2 separate regions of the Homo sapiens genome follow, and region 2 is linked to region 1. Evidence: fine-mapped expression QTL. A gene starts in region 1. The other region holds a variant in brackets. All regions are shown on one strand. Distances are between the middles of the regions.

The links.
Region 2: its variant is fine-mapped to the expression of RHBDF2 in whole blood (TOPMed, PIP above 0.99).

The regions. Positions count from the first base shown.
Region 1 is chr17:76,498,919-76,503,299 of GRCh38, forward strand. RHBDF2 (rhomboid 5 homolog 2) reads right to left here and starts at 2,505. Exons shown (of 19, transcript NM_001005498.4): 1 at 2,435-2,505. RefSeq lists enhancers at 1,763-2,432, 2,783-2,922 and a silencer at 2,093-2,732.
Region 2 is chr17:76,479,426-76,483,806 of GRCh38, forward strand. RHBDF2 (rhomboid 5 homolog 2) reads right to left here. Exons shown (of 19, transcript NM_001005498.4): 3 at 1,950-2,120; 4 at 308-429. The coding sequence starts at 2,099. Among named protein-coding and RNA genes, the nearest start is that of AANAT, 14 kb to the left of the region's middle. RefSeq lists silencers at 1,348-1,417, 2,238-2,337, 2,398-2,447, 4,122-4,381, 4,328-4,381. The variant A/G (reference allele first, on the strand shown) is at 1,833.

The DNA.
Region 1 (4,381 bases):
GAGTCACTGAGGGTTTGTTCGTGGGGCTCTTGGGTGGGGCCTGAGGGTGGGCAACTGGGTTCACACCCGAGCTCCACTGCCGACTTCCTGAACAACTTTGTACAAGCCTGGGTGCTCAGCCCTGTCCCTTGAGAGGCTCACAGCAATGGAGGCCACTTTTGTTTTTTGTGCAAATGAAAAGGTGGGAGTTTCACTTCAGCCTTTTACAGTCAAGAGACCAAAAAAACAAAAACAAAAACAAAACAAAACAAAAAAAACAAAAGCCACCAACACCAACAAAAAGAACCCAAGCTCGAAACCTCCACCAGGGTTCCCAGGCAAGAAGGCTGGGTCCAGAAGTGAACAGGATGGGTATAATGGCTACTGCAAGAAAACAGGGAGGGAGGGCAGCGAGGTGGCCCCAGCTCCTGGGCATGGACGTGGCTGCTTCATCCGATCCTCTCCCACCGTGCCAGCCACCCCTCCTTGTTGCCAGAAAACTGGAAGTACATTCCTCCAGCCCAATACAAACAACTCTGAGTCATCCCTACTGGGGGGCCACCTGGCCTGTGCTTTGATGTCTCCCATCTCTCACCTCTGCTCAGCTAACACCATGGGCAGGGGTGCCTCCACCCCATCAGCAGCTGGGCCCACTCCAGGGCTCGTCAGCTAACCCAGGGTGCCCTCTTTATTGCAGGACAAAAGCAGCCTGGGGACCCCCCAGGAATTAGGAGCCCTGATACTCCTTGGATGTCACTTTCAAAAGGTGTACATAATTGGAGGAGTTAGGTGTGAGTTCAGAAGGGAAAATTCCAGCAGGTCACATGGTATCAGGCAACCATGCCAGCTTCAGCAATCCAGCTTTGGGAAAATCTATGGGAAGAGAGCTCGCCCTCTGCCCACCCTCCCAGCCCAGGGATATTTGAGCTCAAGGGCTGCCTCAGCCCAGCCTTCCTGGGAGATTGCCCTGGGGTTAAGCACCCCAGGCCTGGGCTGCAAGGGGGTCCTCTGTTCCCAACCTCTCCCCCACAGCACCTAGACCAGCTTCCTGCAGGGCCAGTGGAGATTGGGAAAGGCGGTGTCTCATGGCACCAAAGGAAGACTCTTGTGAGGGGAATAAGTGCCCTCACACTGCCTTACCCCTCATCTCATTCAGGTTTATTCCAAGTTCCTCCCCTAACCACTCTGGAAAACTGAGGTAGTTTCCCCAGTGAGGGAGCATCATTGAGAAGGAACCTGATGGACCAGCTGCTGCGCAGGGTTTCTCAGCCTCAGCACAGCCCAACACCTTGGGCTGGATAATTCCTCGTTATGTGGGCTGTTCCGTGCCCTGAAGATGTCTGGTAGCGTCCCTGGCCTCTACCCACTACCTGCCAGTAACAACAACACTCACTTCCCCTCCCAAGTGTGTGACACCCAAAATGACTCCAACATTGCCAAATATCCCATGGCAGGCAAAGTCGCCCCTGGTTGAGAACCACAGCTCTAAAACACGCCTCCCTTTCCACTGCCTGCCCTACGGACAGTGAGGGTCGAATAAGGCAGATGCTGGTCTCATTATATTACCAGCAAATGGCACACACTGGGGGCCTGATGCCAGCCGCCCAGGCAACAGCAGCCTCTCCCCAAGTGGGGTCAGCTCCCCACCGCCTTCTGCTCCTCAGACACACCCGCTGCCACCCTCTCAGTAGCTCCAACCCTAGAGCCCCCTCCGTTAATCTTTCATGGAATGGGGCAGGGCCAAAACCTAGGCTTCCTTTGCGCCCTGGCGTGGGAGTGGGGCGGGGTCTGTACCCTAGGGAACTTATCCGTCTCTATCCCAATGCCCTGGGGGAACATCCGAGGGGCCAAACAGGTAAAAGGCAAGCCCAGGGCCAACCTTCCCCAGCCCCTCCATCCAGAAGTCAGGACTCCTGGGTCCAATTTCTGAGCTCCGGTCCAGCCCTGCTGTGTGAGTCCCTCATCCCCACCCCCGCACCTGTTTCCACCTTGGCTGGCTCAACCAACAAACTTCGGCCCCGGTCCGCCCGGTGCTCACCCGGGAGAAAGTGGAGGGGAGAGAAGGGTCTGAACTGCAGGCACTTCTGGGACGCAGGCGGGACTGCCCTGCGCAGTCTCCTCTCTTCCTCCGGAGGTTTAAATCTCTGCCCAATCGTCTTGCCCCTACATCTGGCGCCCCGTCGCCCAGGGACCCCTTAGGCGTCCTGTCCGAGCCGAGCCCTAGGGGCCAGCAGACCGGGTCCAGCGGCCCCGCCGGCGCCGTCTGAGCCAGCCCGGGCCTCCAGCCGAGCCCACGTGGGACCCAGGCGCTCCGCAGGGCGGGCACCGGGCACTGGGCACCCTTCCTGGCCGCGCACCACCGCTCCAGGGCAGGCTCGGGCACAACCTCGGGACCCTTCCGGCGCCTGCGGCTGGGCGGCCGTGAGTCCTGCCCCGCTCGTCGCCCCGCGCTCACCTCCCTGCGGCCCCAAGTCCCCGGGACGCAACTCCGTGCGGCGCCTGCGAGCGGCTGGGCGGTGGCTCCTCGGGGGCGGGGCGGCGGCGCTCCGCCTCTTCCCTACCTGCGCGCGGGCGGCCGGGAGGCGGGGCTGGGCTCCAGGGGGCGTGGCCGGGCTCATGGGGGCGGGGCCTGGACGCAGTCTTTGCTCAGTCGGCTTCCTGGGTTCCTGCCTCCGCCCTCCACCCAGCTGGGTCCCCGCCTGGGCAGAGCCCTGTTTTCGCCTGAGCTGGTCTCTTCAGGGCGCCGTCCTTTCCCTCTTGGCGTCCTCACTCCACCCCAGACCAAACACGTCATCTAGGTCTTGATTGCCGTCTTCAAGTCGCCCCTCCCCATCAAGAAAAAGCACCCAATCTCCCATCCCCTTCTTCCAGCGCCCTCATCCTCAGGCCAAGTGGGCCTGTTCCCTTGACCCTTTTAGTCTGTAGTCACACTCTCTCCGGGAAGCTGGGCCTGAACACCTCCTCTCCCTCCTGGACCCTGAGGCCTCTCTCCTAGCTCTGCTGTGCCCTTGGGTTGGGAACAGGCACTCCGTGGAGGTCCTATCTGCATTTGCCCTGCAGCTAAGGCCAACATTTGTGACTCCTGCCAACCCCCTACACACCCCGTAGAAGCATTGACAGAACCCACCCAGCTCTGGCCCTTCCAGCTGCCATGCGGGCCAGAGCCAGACTGGAGATTGGGGACGCTGGCGACACCTGGCCCCTTGGCTTGGGTCTGTCTGCCCAGGTGGTTCCTTCTCTCTTCCCTGGACTCCAAGGGCCTGCCTCTTGGGACTAGACAAACAAAACCTTGGCCAGGGCAGCTAGGACCGAACTCCAAGGTCTGGATGCCCCGTTCTCAGCCCCAGCGCTTATCATCTCGCCGTCCCTCTCCAGGAGGCCTGGCTAGGCCAGGAGGAGCAGAGTTTGAAGAGACTCAGGCTTGGAGGGGTGGGGGTGGGGTTGTCAGGGCCAAGGCAAAACCTCTGGCCCTTAGAGAGCTCCTGAGCCACCCTGCCCCCCAACCCAAGGACTCTGGTGTTTATTGCTGACCTGGGTGGAGGTGGGGAGCACCTGGCTGCTGGAGATTATCCTGAGAGATGCATCTCTCCTCCCCAGCTCTGGGGCCATGAGGAGGGCACAGGCTGGAAGGAGGGGGAGTGGGCCAAAGCTGGGGTGGGGGTTGCTCCTAGTAACAAATGTAAGGGACCATTTATTGTGCAACCAGCACATCCTGGGGTTATGTGCAGAGAGGAACAAAACCAGGGCCTGCCCACGAAGTGCCAGCATTCTACAGGGAGACGTTGGAACTCAATACTGTAACAGGAAGGGTGAGAGCAGCTAGCCATTCCAAAGTGCTTTAGTCTGTATAATCCGCAGTACAGGTCTATGAAGTGGGTACCATTATGATCATCCCCATTTTAGGGATGAGAAAACTGAGGCAGAGGGAGATGTGAGGGGAGCAGCTGGGGTTTAAACTCGGTCATGATCTGACTTTAGACTCTAACAAACACTGCTGCAAATGCCTGAGCTGGGTTCTCTCTCCTGGAGCTCTACTGGAAGCTCTGCAGGAGTCCCCAGGAGGGGAGGGATTCATGGTGGTGCTTAAGCTGGTGTCAGGGATTTGTCCCATGCAAACATGGCGTGCTGCCCGGCCACATAGGTGCAGGGAGGCTGATTACAGCCTTGGCTGCAGCAACACGCACCTGTGAGGCCAGAGAGGGAAGAATGTTAAATAGGCCAGGGGTATAACTTGTGATAATGTCACACAGCTGTTAAAAGCAACGAGGCAGCTATCCATGTACTGAGAAAGGAATTATCTCCAACTTATAGTAAGTTAAAAAAAAAAAAGCAAGCTGCATGTTTAGTATAATCCTATTTACCTAAATTTAAATAGAACAGACATATATATGTTGGTAGATCC
Region 2 (4,381 bases), 19 kb before region 1:
GTGACCAGATGAGCAGAAGCAGGGGATGACGGGAGCGTGAGGAGCCAGGCTAGGGCCCCAGGCACCCCCACACTGATCCACCCAGCTCCTCGAAGCCCCCCAGCCTCCACACCGTGATATTCCGCAAAGCACATACCCATTTCCCCATCTATACCATGATAATAGGCCACAGGGAGACATTGCTCATTAATGCCGGCCTCCTCCTTCCAGAGAGGGGACGCAGGGACCAGGCCCAATCATGTCCAGGCCCCGAGAATCCACAGGTTGCTGGGTGGGGGGTGCTGGGCTTGGGTGTAGGGGGGCTCACTTGCGGATGCTCTGGGACAGTGAGGCCTGGCGGCGGAAGCCAGGGCGCTTCTCTGAACTCTCCTGCCATCGGCTGCGTGGCTCCTGGAGGCTGACGCTCTTCAAGTAGGCTGGGTTCTTCCTCTTGGGGAGGAAGGAGGGAGGGCAGGCGGTGGTGTGTGCAGCCCAGGTCCTGGGCTGGCTTTTCTTTAGCCTCCTATTCTGAAAACCCTGAGAACAAACTTCAACCCTGATTTATGCCCCAATTTGCTTTCATTTGGAAATATATATATATAATGTGTGTGTGTGTGTGTGTGTGTGTGTGTGTGTGTTTGTATATGTATATATATATATATATATATTTTTTTTTTTTTTTTTTTTTTTTTTTTGGAGATGGAATCTCACTGTATTGTCCAGGCTGGAGTGCAGTGGTGTGGTCTCGACTCACTGACACCTCCGCCTCCCAGGTTCAAGCGATTCTTCTGCCTCAGCCTCCTGAGTAGCTGGGACTATAGGCATGTGCCACCACACCCGGCTAATTTTTGTATTTTTAGTAGAGACGGGGTTTCACCATGTTGGCCAGGCTGGTCTCGAACTCCTGCCTGACCTCAAGTGATCTGGCCGCCTCGGCCTCCCAAAGTGCTGGGATTACAGGCATGAGCTACCATGCCCGGCCTATATATATATTTTTTGGGACAGAGTCTTGCTCTGTTGCCCAGGTTGGAGGGCAGTGGCACCATCATAGCTCACTGGAGCCTCGACCTCCCAGGCTCAAGCAAGCCTTCTACCTCAGTGTCCTAAGTAGCTGGGATTACAGGCATGTGCCACCACACCCAGCTCTTTTTTAATTTTTTTTGCAGAGACAGAGTCTTGCTATGTTGTCTAGTCTGGTCTCGAACTCCTGGGCTCAAGTGATCTGGCTGCCTCAGCCTCCCAAAGTGATGAGATTACAGGCATGAGGCGACCTCGCCCAGCCTCATTCTGAATTTAAAATCGCCATTGTCTAACTTTTCTCCGTCAAGGCCAGCGTGTGTTTTCCTAACTCCTCATCCAGTCCCTCCCCTCTGCACCATGACGCTCCTGCCTGCTGCTGTGTCTTCTGCAGAGCTCTCGGGTGAACGGGGGGCGTTAACATCGCTTCCCTTTATACTCCAGACTGTGCAGGAAGCCCACGCTGCCACAAGCCGGTTTTCAATGAGCTCTTTATGGGGCACTAGACCAGACTGTCAGAAACACTGATCTGTTCTCGTCCTCCCAAAGGAAGCGGACACTGCCTAGGCGGGCTGCTGATGCCAGGGAGACACTGTCCCCTGCTCACCCATGTCAAAGAAAGCCCCCAGCCCTCAGAAGAGAGACTGAGAGTCCAGGCCTAGGGGGTGAAATGAGAACAGCCAGGGCCCCAGGGTTACCAGCAAGCACTTTCTTGGGGCTGGCCCTTCCTGTGTGCCCCTGACCACGATGAGAGTGAGCCCGGTTCCTGGCTTTACTCCCTGTGATATTTCGGGCCCAGGAAGGAGGGGGTAGGGCCCGAGTCAAGGGCTGCACAG[A/G]CAGCAGCTGTGGCTCAGGAAGGAGCCCCTCTGGGAAGTGAAACTGACCAGAAAGTGTCACGTGGGTACATCTGTTACCTACGGCAGAACAGTGAGCCCCCAGGCCAGCCCCCTTACCTCAGGCAGCATGCTGTCCTGCTCGCCAGGGGCCTGGGTCTCTTTCTCGGGTGGCGGGATGGTGATGGAGAGGTTGGGTGGCTTCCGGCTCTGCAGGCGGCTGCTGGACACAGAGGACACGCTCCCGCCATTCTTGTCAGCAGAGGCCATTGTGGGCAGGAGGCGGGAGGGCTGGAATGGAGACCGGGAGAGCAGCGGTGGGCGGTGCGGGGTGGCGCAGTGTCAGGACCCTGACGCCAGGGCACGCAGCCCAGACCAAGAACCAACTTGCCTAAAGTTGGTTCAAACATCTCTGGGCGGCTGGGCGCGGTGGCTCACGCCTGTAATCCCAGCACTTTGGGAGGCCGAGGTGGGGGGATCACGAGGTCAGGAGATCGAGACCATCCTGGCCAACATGGTGAAACCCCGTCTCTACTAAAAATACAAAAAATTAGCTAGGCGTGGTGGCACGTGCCTGTAATCCCAGCTACTCGGGAGGCTGAGGCAGGATGGCTTGAACCCAGGAGGCAGCGGTTATAGTAAGCCGAGATCGCGCCACTGCACTCCAGCCTGGCGACAGAGCAAGACTCTGTCTGAAAACACACACACACACACACACACACACACACACACACACACACACACACACAAAACCAAAAACAAACCATCCCTGGGGACTAAACCCAGCCTGAACCAGGCTGAACCTCAGGCCCAGTGGTTGGAGTGAGGTCTATTTCTGACCATCATTTGCATCCCGGACCATATGGGTCTGGGAGGTCCTCAACTTACTACCTCATTCAATTTCTGATCTCTCCGCTTGAGGCAAGAACCAAACCCTGAAAAGAGCATGAAGATGCAGGCCAGGGACGGTGGCTCACACCTGTAATACCAGCACTTGGGGAGGCCGAGGTGGGCCGAGAGATGAGAAACCTACTGTGCTGGTCCCTGTCCCCCAAGGCCACCCAGTTTATTTTTCTTGTCTTTTTTCTGTAGAGGTGGGGGTCTCTCCATGTTAGCCAGGCTGGTCTGGAACTCCTGGGCTTAAGCCATCTGCCTGCCTTGGCCTCCCAAGTGCTGGGATTACAGGTGCAAGCTCACTGTGCCCAGCCCCAGTTCATTTTTCAAAGATAACTAAAACTGGCTGGGTGCGTGGCTCATGCCTGTAATCCCAGCACTTTGGGAGGCCGAGGTAGGTGGATCACCTGAGGTCAGGAGTTTGAGACCAGCCTGGCCAACATGGTAAAACCCTGTCTCTACTAAAAATACAAAATTAGCCAGGTGTGGTGGCGCATGCCTATAATCCCAGCTACTTGGGAGGCTGAGGCACGAGAATTGCTTGAACCCAGGAGGCAGAGGTTGCAGTGAGCCAAGATCATGCCACTGCACTCCAGCCTGGGCGACAGAGTGAGAAAATGTCTCAAAAAAAAAAGATAACTGAAACTGCCACCTGTCTGGCACTTTTCTCCCCCATAGTGAGAACACTGTTTAACAATAAAAGTGGCATATGCTCATTGAAAAAAAAAAAAAATCACACAGCTGTGTGTGGTGGCTTACACGTACAATCCCAACACTTTGGGAGACCAAGGTGGATGGATCACTTAAGGTCAGGAGTTCGAGACTAGCCTGGCCAACACAGTGAAACACCATCTCTACTAAAATACAAAAATTAGCCAGGCATAGTGCCTCATTCCTGTAGTTCCAGCTACTCGGGAGGCTGAGGCAGGAGAATCACTTGAACCCGAGAGGAAGAGATTGCTGTGAGCCAATCTCATTGCACCCTCCACCTCCCAGGTTCAAGCAATTCTCTTGCCTCAGCCTCCCAAGTAGCCGGGGTTATGGGCGTGAGCCACCAAGCCCAGCCCACACTCTATCATTTTACCTGCATTGTAGACATCTTTCCCTGTCAACACATACGGACAGACCTACTTTTTTTCTTTTTTCTTTTTTTTTGTGATGGGGTCTCATTCTGTCACCCAGATTGGAGTGCAGTGGCGCGATCTCGGCTCACCGCAACCTCCACCTCCCAGGTTCAAGTGATTCTCCTGCCTCAGCCTCCCAAGAAGCTCGGATTACGGGCATGCGCCACCACGCCCAGCTAATTTTGTATTTTTAGTAGAGATGGGGTTTCTCCATGTTGGTCAGGCTGGTCTCGAACTCCTGACCTCAGGTGATCCACCTGCCTCGGCCTCCCAAAGTGCTGGGATTACAGGTTTCAGCCACCACACCCGGCCCTAGGCCTCTTGTCTTTTTTGATGAATGCAAAGATTTCATAAGTGGAATGCACCAAGATTTACTTAAGTCCAGACTGCTGGTTATTTAGGATGTTTCCGGAATTTGAGACATGGGTCTGATGTTGCAACTAACACCCTTGCATACACCGCGTGTGCTTGTTTAACTATTACAAGACCAAGTTCTGGAAGCAGAATGGCTGGGTTGAAGAGTAAGTACATCCC